2 linked regions of the Homo sapiens genome follow. The gene in region 1 interacts genetically with each later gene. Each region holds a gene or a part of one and is shown in the gene's direction. Other genes may lie near its edges. The genes, in order: GNA12 and TEC.

The links.
Region 2: of GNA12 (region 1) and TEC, changing one enhances a phenotype caused by changing the other (phenotypic enhancement), as found in Homo sapiens cells (one study listed by BioGRID).

The regions. Positions count from the first base shown.
Region 1 is NC_000007.14:2,792,172-2,795,992, reverse strand, and holds part of GNA12 (guanine nucleotide-binding protein subunit alpha-12), read left to right. Parts: intron 1-849; coding exon 850-1,065; intron 1,066-3,821. UniProt on the Homo sapiens protein: Guanine nucleotide-binding proteins (G proteins) are involved as modulators or transducers in various transmembrane signaling systems. Activates effector molecule RhoA by binding and activating RhoGEFs (ARHGEF12/LARG).
Region 2 is NC_000004.12:48,165,305-48,169,125, reverse strand, and holds part of TEC (tyrosine-protein kinase Tec), read left to right. Parts: intron 1-499; coding exon 500-540; intron 541-1,172; coding exon 1,173-1,348; intron 1,349-3,821.

The DNA.
Region 1 (3,821 bases):
AAAAATTAGCCGGGCCTGGTGGCAGGTACCTGTAATCCTAGCTACTTAGGAGGCTGAGGCAGGAGAATTGCTTGAACCTGGGAGGCGGAGGTTGCAGTGAGCCGAGATCACTCCATTGCACTCCAGGCCAGGGCAAAAAGAGTGAAACTCCATCTAAGAAAAAAAAAAAAAAAAAAGTTGTTTTTTTACTGATACACTTCATTTTCCAGTGAAATTTTCTGAAATTGTTGCCACCTCCTCCCCGCCCAGTTGTCTTTTTTCCAGTAGCTTTGCAAATGAATGATAGCAGAAAGCAGACTTCTTTCTGTGGTGCTTATGTACATCTGTTTTCTTTTTTTTCTTTTTTCTTTTCTTTTTTTTTTTTTGAAACAGGGTCTTGCTCTGTTGCCCAGCCTAGAATATAGTGCAGCAATCATAGATAACCGTAGCCTTGACCTCCTGGGCTCAAGCAATCCTCCCCGCTCAGCTGAGACTACAGGTGTGCCACCACCAAGCCCAGCTGTTTTTAATTTGATTTAATTTTTTGTAGAAGCAGGGTCTTGCTCTGTTGCCCAGGCCGGTCTCAGACTCCTGTGTTCCAGCAGTCCTCCCTCTTTGGCCTCCCAAAGGGGAGGCTCACAGTGTGAGCCACTGCTCTCGGCCATGTGCGTCTGTCTTGGTGAGGTTATACTGCTGAGAGTTAAGACTTTCCACATCACAACAAACAAACCAAGAGACAGACTCAGGCTGCACAGCTCAGAGCTTGTGAGTTTTCTGCGTTATGACAATGGATGCCCATTTTGAGCTTCTCTAGCGTGGTTTAGTCTTTGGAATGCAATTAAATCCTCTCTTCTTTCTTTTATTTTCTAGGGCTCAAGGGTTCTTGTTGATGCACGAGATAAGCTTGGCATTCCTTGGCAGTATTCTGAAAATGAGAAGCATGGGATGTTCCTGATGGCCTTCGAGAACAAGGCGGGGCTGCCTGTGGAGCCGGCCACCTTCCAGCTGTACGTCCCGGCCCTGAGCGCACTCTGGAGGGATTCTGGCATCAGGGAGGCTTTCAGCCGGAGAAGCGAGTTTCAGCTGGTGAGTGAGTAGGCCTTCTTGCTGGGCACCTGATAGTGTGTTTTTTACATGACTATTTTGGACCGTTAGTTGAATTTCCTTAAAAACTGTGTAACAGTCCAAGCAAGCTCTAAATCACCGTAAGTTGTAATGATCAACAACCAAAACACGGGATGGAGGCAGATGCTATATAAAAGGCTCAAGAGGGGAAGGAGCAAGAGCCACTCAGGTAAGATCAATAGCTTTCTTCTGGGAATACGGAGGGTTCTTAGAATCATCAGCATTGGCACAACCCGAGAAATTTAGTTTTTTTTAGAGATCTTGTTCATAGTAGGAAATAACACCCCCCACAACAGCTTCCCACTTTGGACCTGTGGGTATGGGCAACTCACGAACGCCTTCAGATCAGCGCCTCGGAAGCAAATCCAACTCCTCCCAGTTGTTCCCTTCAGATTTGTTCCTTTCGTTTTAAGGTCTAAAAACTTCACAAAGCCCAGTTATTTAGATTCATTTGGGGTCTGAATCTATAACCAGAAAATCTGGGGGGTTTTGCCTGTTTGCTTTTTGTTTTTTTCTACCTTTCAAAATTAACCGTATATAAAGTAAAATGTACAATTTTTCTGATAACCAGCATAAATGTGCACAGCTGATATTAATACACACCCAGGGTATCCAGAAATGCCTCTCACTCTCACAGCCGTTTGCCCCCTTAGCACCCAGAGTCAAGTTGAAGTCATGAATCCTTTGCCGTTCTTATGATTTTGCCATAATACCCATTTATTATTTGTAAACACGACAGTCTTGAGTTTTACTGATTCTTAACCTTCATATAAGTCATTTCTTAGTGTATAGTATATATGCTTCTGTGACTTGCCTTTTTCACTCCACATGTTGGAATTTCATCAGGCGAGGCACATAGCAGCGGTTCTTCCCTTTTCACTGCTGTCTGATGCTCCACTGTGGAAAGATACTAGGATCCATTCCTTCTTTCATTGAGGTACTTTTGAACTGTTTTTCATATTTTGCTATTGGAAACGTCTTTTTTTTTCCTTTTTTTTTTTTTTTTTGAGATGGAGTCTCGCGCTGTTGCCCAGCCTGGAGTGCAGTGGCGCCATCTCAGCTCACTGCAACCTCCACCTCTGGATTCAAGTGATTCTCCCACCTCAGCCTCCCGAGTAGCAGAGACTGTAGGCACCCACCACCACACCAGCTAATTTTTATATTTTTTAGTGGAGATGGAGTTTTACCATGTTGGCCAGGCTGGTCTCGAACTCCTGGCCTCAGGTGATCCACCCGCCTCGGCCTCCCAAAGTGCTGGGATTTCAGGTGTGAGCCACCATGCCCCACCCTATTCATATCTTTTACCCATCCTTTTCCTGCAGAGTAATTTTTATTTTTCTCAATCATCTGAGAGGTGCTATATAGTCTGCTAATAGTCCCCTCAGTTCAATTTCCTTATATTCTTCTCCCAAGTCCCCCTAATGTTAACATCTTAACCACTATACAACTATTAAAACTAAGAAGTTGACATCGGTATGAAAGCATCAATTAACTGTAGACCTTGTCTGAATGTGACCCACCTTTCCTCTTGCGCTCCTGTCCGCTGCTTCCTCTCGCGTCCTGTCCGCTGCTTCCTCTCGCGTCCTGTCCGCTGCTTCCTCTCGCGCTCCTGTCTGCTGGATCCTGGCCTGGAATCCCCCATTGTGTTTAGTCATTGTGTCCCCTTGGTCTCTTGCAGTCCATGATAGCTCCTTGATCTTTCCTTGCCTTTCATGACCTTGACATGTCCAGAGCACTGGCCAGGTATTGTGTAGAATCTTCCTGTTTGGGTTTGTCTGGTATTTTCTCGTCATCAGGATGAGGGGATGCATTTTTTTGGCACAGAAACCGCAGGCGTGCCGTTGAGCCCTGCTCAGATCATCTGATCAGGAAGTGCGTGATATTGTCCAGTGGCTGGTGATGCAAGCCTGGGTTGCTTGGTTGAGGCACTGTTGGCCACCTTTCTCCACTGGGAAGTCAGTATTTTCTCTGTGTTGTTAACACATATCTTAGGGAGATACATTGAGACCCTGCAAATAGCCTGTTTCTCCTCAGGCTTTTGCCTGTAAATGTTAATGTCCTCCAGGGCATCTTAAGGATGACGTTTTTACTAGCCCCTTTCCATCTGCACATTCCTTCTCAAGTTAACTTTAACAGTTAAGGTAAAAGAATCAAAAGAGAGTGGAAGATGTGGTTGCGGTAGAAAGGAAATTTTAATCTCCTAAAGAGCAGGGCTGGAAGAAACAATTGGGAAATACATGTCAGTATCTCAATGTGAAATTGAGGTTTACACCTTTTCCCCATACACTCACAGAGTCTGGGAAAGAAGATTCTCATTCATTTAGAACTTGGATGGAAATTGAGGATTTTCCAAAGAAGGAAGCAGAAGTGTCTGGGGCTGATCGTACTGAGTGAGGCTTCTGTCTGGGATTCGGCATGGTGCAGCAGCTTTGACAGGCTTCTGTCTTTGCCCTGTTCCGTCAGTGCAGGGTGTCAGTGCTGGAAGGGACCTCCCAATTTAGGAAGTCAAGCCCTTGTATTGTCACGACATGGAAGTAAGCCCGTACCAGTTATGCTGTGCCTGAGGCCACATCATCTTGGTAATCACTGTGAGAAATTTGGGCCTCAAAGCCCAGTCTGCTTGTTTCTCCCCTTCTTCACTCATTCATTCATTCATTCTGCATTCATGGATCACCTACTGTGTGAGACCCGGTGCTACATGCTGGGGATATAGCAGT
Region 2 (3,821 bases), on another chromosome or scaffold:
GATGAGATCTAAAAATGGCACACCCCATTTGTACACAGAATCCTTTGATTAGAATTTGGTCCCATTGCCACACCTAGCTGGGAAACATTCTTTATCTTGGGTAGCCATGTGTCAGCCAAAACTCTAGGACTGTGGACTGTAGAGGAATGGACAGCCAAAGCTGATTAATTTCTCAGTGTTGTCATGATTTCAATGTTTGATTCCATGAGCATTATTGAGTGCCCAGTTTATGCAGTGGTAGGAATACAAAGAACTGGCCTGGCTTCAATCCCTGTGGCATTTATTGTGCGTTCAGAAAGGCAGAAATACAAACCAGCTATAATAGCAGTTTTTAATTCTGTTCTAGAATAGAGATACAAGCAGCATACACCAGAGTTGGTCAGAGTGTGCTGCTTGTCTATGTGTTAACTTCCACTTTTCCTTAAAACTACCCATATCTTATTTTTATCAATTATTGGTAGATAGCATTTTAATCTGTTTTTGTTGTTGGCATTTTCAGGTATAAGAAAAGCACTACCTCCAGCACCAGAAACAAAGAAGGTAGGTGGTCTTTAGCTTTTGATAGTTAATCTTTACATTTTAAGCCTTTAAGTCTTAAGTTTTGGTAGTGTTTGTGACTTACTGAGTATGCGGTTTATTCATTGATGTGACACAATTTTTCCCTAGGATCGTCTCAGAAGCAGATGTGCTGTAGCTTATTTCAATTTTTTGTGGTGTCAAATAATACCAATTTAATTGTATGAGATTTTATCATTGGAGATCCTGTTATCATCTGGCATTTTGCCTCTATTTTCACTTAAAGAGTTGTATTAAGAGGAGTGGGATTTAGATAAATATTTCAGTCTTAAGACCACAGTGTGACAAAGAAGTGACTTCACTGATATAATGATATGCCTTTCAGGAGTGGGGTATAGTGGAGGAAACATGCACTTTGGACTCATTCAAGACTTGATCTGATATGAGTGACTTTGAGTGGGTTAATTAAATCATTGTTACCTTAGTTATGAAACAGGAATTATAATACTCTTCTTCATGAGAGTTTGTTGGATTATAGTAAGTAGACTTGAAGTTTCTAGTTTATTCTGTGGTGATGTATGACTCATTTAGTGTTTTGATTCATGATCAGTTTCATATAGAAGACTAAACTTTCAAATGTTATCTTCCTTGTCTAGCGAAGGCCTCCCCCACCAATTCCACTAGAAGAAGAAGATAATAGTGAAGAAATCGTTGTAGCCATGTATGATTTCCAAGCAGCAGAAGGACATGATCTCAGATTAGAGAGAGGCCAAGAGTATCTCATTTTAGAAAAGAATGATGTTCATTGGTGGAGAGCAAGAGATAAATATGGGTAAGTATTCCCTCTATGTGTGTGATATGCAGTGGGTAGGTGGGAGTCAAGTGTTGAGTGAGAAGTAGATAAGTCGTAACTATCGTGTAATGAGACTAATTTCACCAGCCATAAATGGAAGCACACCTTATTACTTGGTAGTAACACAGTCCTTTCTTAGTGGTCACTCAGTAAATGCGAATTGATCAATCACTTCTTTTCAAAAGTTAGAATACATTGGTCTCTTTCTCATCTGATACATGTTTAATGTGATTATTTTGACCTTGAGGGAAATTAAATTTTATATTTTGTCCCCACCTGCCATAAGTAAGTAATCTTAGATTTTTCTAAGAGTTTATTGTAATTTTTTTCTTAGACTCTCTCTCTCTATATATACGTATGTGTATGTGCGTGTGTGTATGCATACACATACACAGTATAATGAAGCCTCTTCTCACTTCTTTCTCTCTCTCCATGAATATATGGAGGAATAAGAGAATATATATATATGTATATGTGTGTGTCTATATGTGTGTATATGTGTTTGTGTATGTATATATAAAATATATATATGTACATGCAGGAAATTAAACAGCAAGCTTTTTTTTGTACAAGTTAATTTAGGATTTAAAGAAAACAGTCCTTTCAACCCTATCATTGATAAATATATGGGCAGATAGGGGTAACTGTAGGGGATGAGTATCTTGCAGGCTTCATAAGCAAACTCTGTATCCTGTGTTTACCTCTGCAGTGCAATCCCACTTATACTCTGAGTTCCAGTGGATGAGAAGAGGAGAACTTTTTGTCCTGCCAGAGCACACTCTTCTTCCACCTGCCCTCTCACCTCCCAGCCCCAGCCCCAATTTCAAGTCACTGTTCCTCAGTTCACTTCTGGAGAAGCAGTGGAAACCTCTAGTTTAGGCGGGGTCCTTTTCTTCTGCTTGATTCCTAGGCATGGTGCATATATGAGTGCTGTTTTGCTGTGCATTATTAACTTATTTGCAACTCTTAACCTTTTATTCCATGTTTACAGGAAGGTTGTCACTGCTTCTCTTTATCGGATGCTGTATAAGATTGATTTCTATTTTTAATTTTTTTTTGTTGTAGAAATTTTCAAGCATCCAAAAAGTATATAATAGTATAATAGAATCTCTTTTTGCTTGACTTCAAAAATTACCAACATTTTGCCAGTCTAATCCTTCCATTTTTTTCTAGAATATTTAAAAGTAAATTCAAGTCATCATGTTATTTCACTCCTAAATCTAAATTCTAAAGACTTAAAAAAAACACCACCATGTCATTATCATTCTTAATAACAGTATTTTAAATAAGATCGTCTGTAGACTTTCCCTTAATATTTTTGTACCTGGAGGAAGAGTACAAATGAGAATCCACATAACATATATCTAAGTATTTAGGAGTTATAAATCAAGCTAGCAAACTTTATCCTCCAACTTGACAAATACCCTTTCATAGTGACAAGAAAGGCACGGTTTGGATTTAGAGCTCTGTGCCAGAATGTTGCAGTGCATGGAAAGCTGGCTCTGGGGGGGCTACCTCTCTTCTTTCTTCCCTCCTGCCCTGGCTCTATCTCTCATGTACCATATGGATCTTCCAACCTGTACACCCACACTCTTACTGCGTGGCTTGCAAAAGCTACCCCGCATCATGGCCACACCTTCAGCCTCAGTGAAAGGGAATGCACATGGCCAGCCAGCACAATTTGTTTTTTAGAAGATGGACCCAGTAGAAGGCCCATGTAGACCTTGGAAATGAGCAGGGTGTTCTGGGGTCCTAGTTACCCAGAAAGGAGCATGGGAACACAGGTCAGAGGGAACACGCACTTTTGCAGAGCTCTCAAAAGTGTGGGGTTAGAGCAAGAGCTTCTCTGGCCCAGGTCTAAGGATGGAACCAATTATGTAATTCCAGTTTCCCCGATTAGCTCTAATACTTATTTTTACTGTTGGTTTATTCAAATCAGGACCCACACACTGCATTTTGGTTAATATATCTCTTATGTTTCTCTTATTCTACATTTTTGATTTATTGATGAAAGCAGGTCATTTAACACTAAAATGAGCCATAATCTAGATGAAACAGATTGTTTTCTTGTGGTGTCACTTAATATGCCTGTGTTTCTTGTATTTCTTGTGAACTGGCGAGTAGAGCTAGAGGCTTGATCACATTAGAAGGTGATCTCTGGATGTCCTACTTTTAGTAATGCTAAGATTGCTTAGTGGTTCAGGTGTCAGACTTGTTCCTCTGTCATAAAGTTCTTCATTGGTATTTACCCTGATGATTTGGGGGTTCATTAATGATTCTTTCTTAGAGTCATTATTTCATTAGGGGTTACAAAATGGTGATTTCCTAATTTTGTCATTCCATCTGCATTTAGTAGTTCTCTAAAGAAGAACTGCCTCATATACCAGTTCATTTAGTTCATGAAGGAAAGGAAAGATGAAATTTGGATTCTTAAACTTTTACTAGTTTTCAG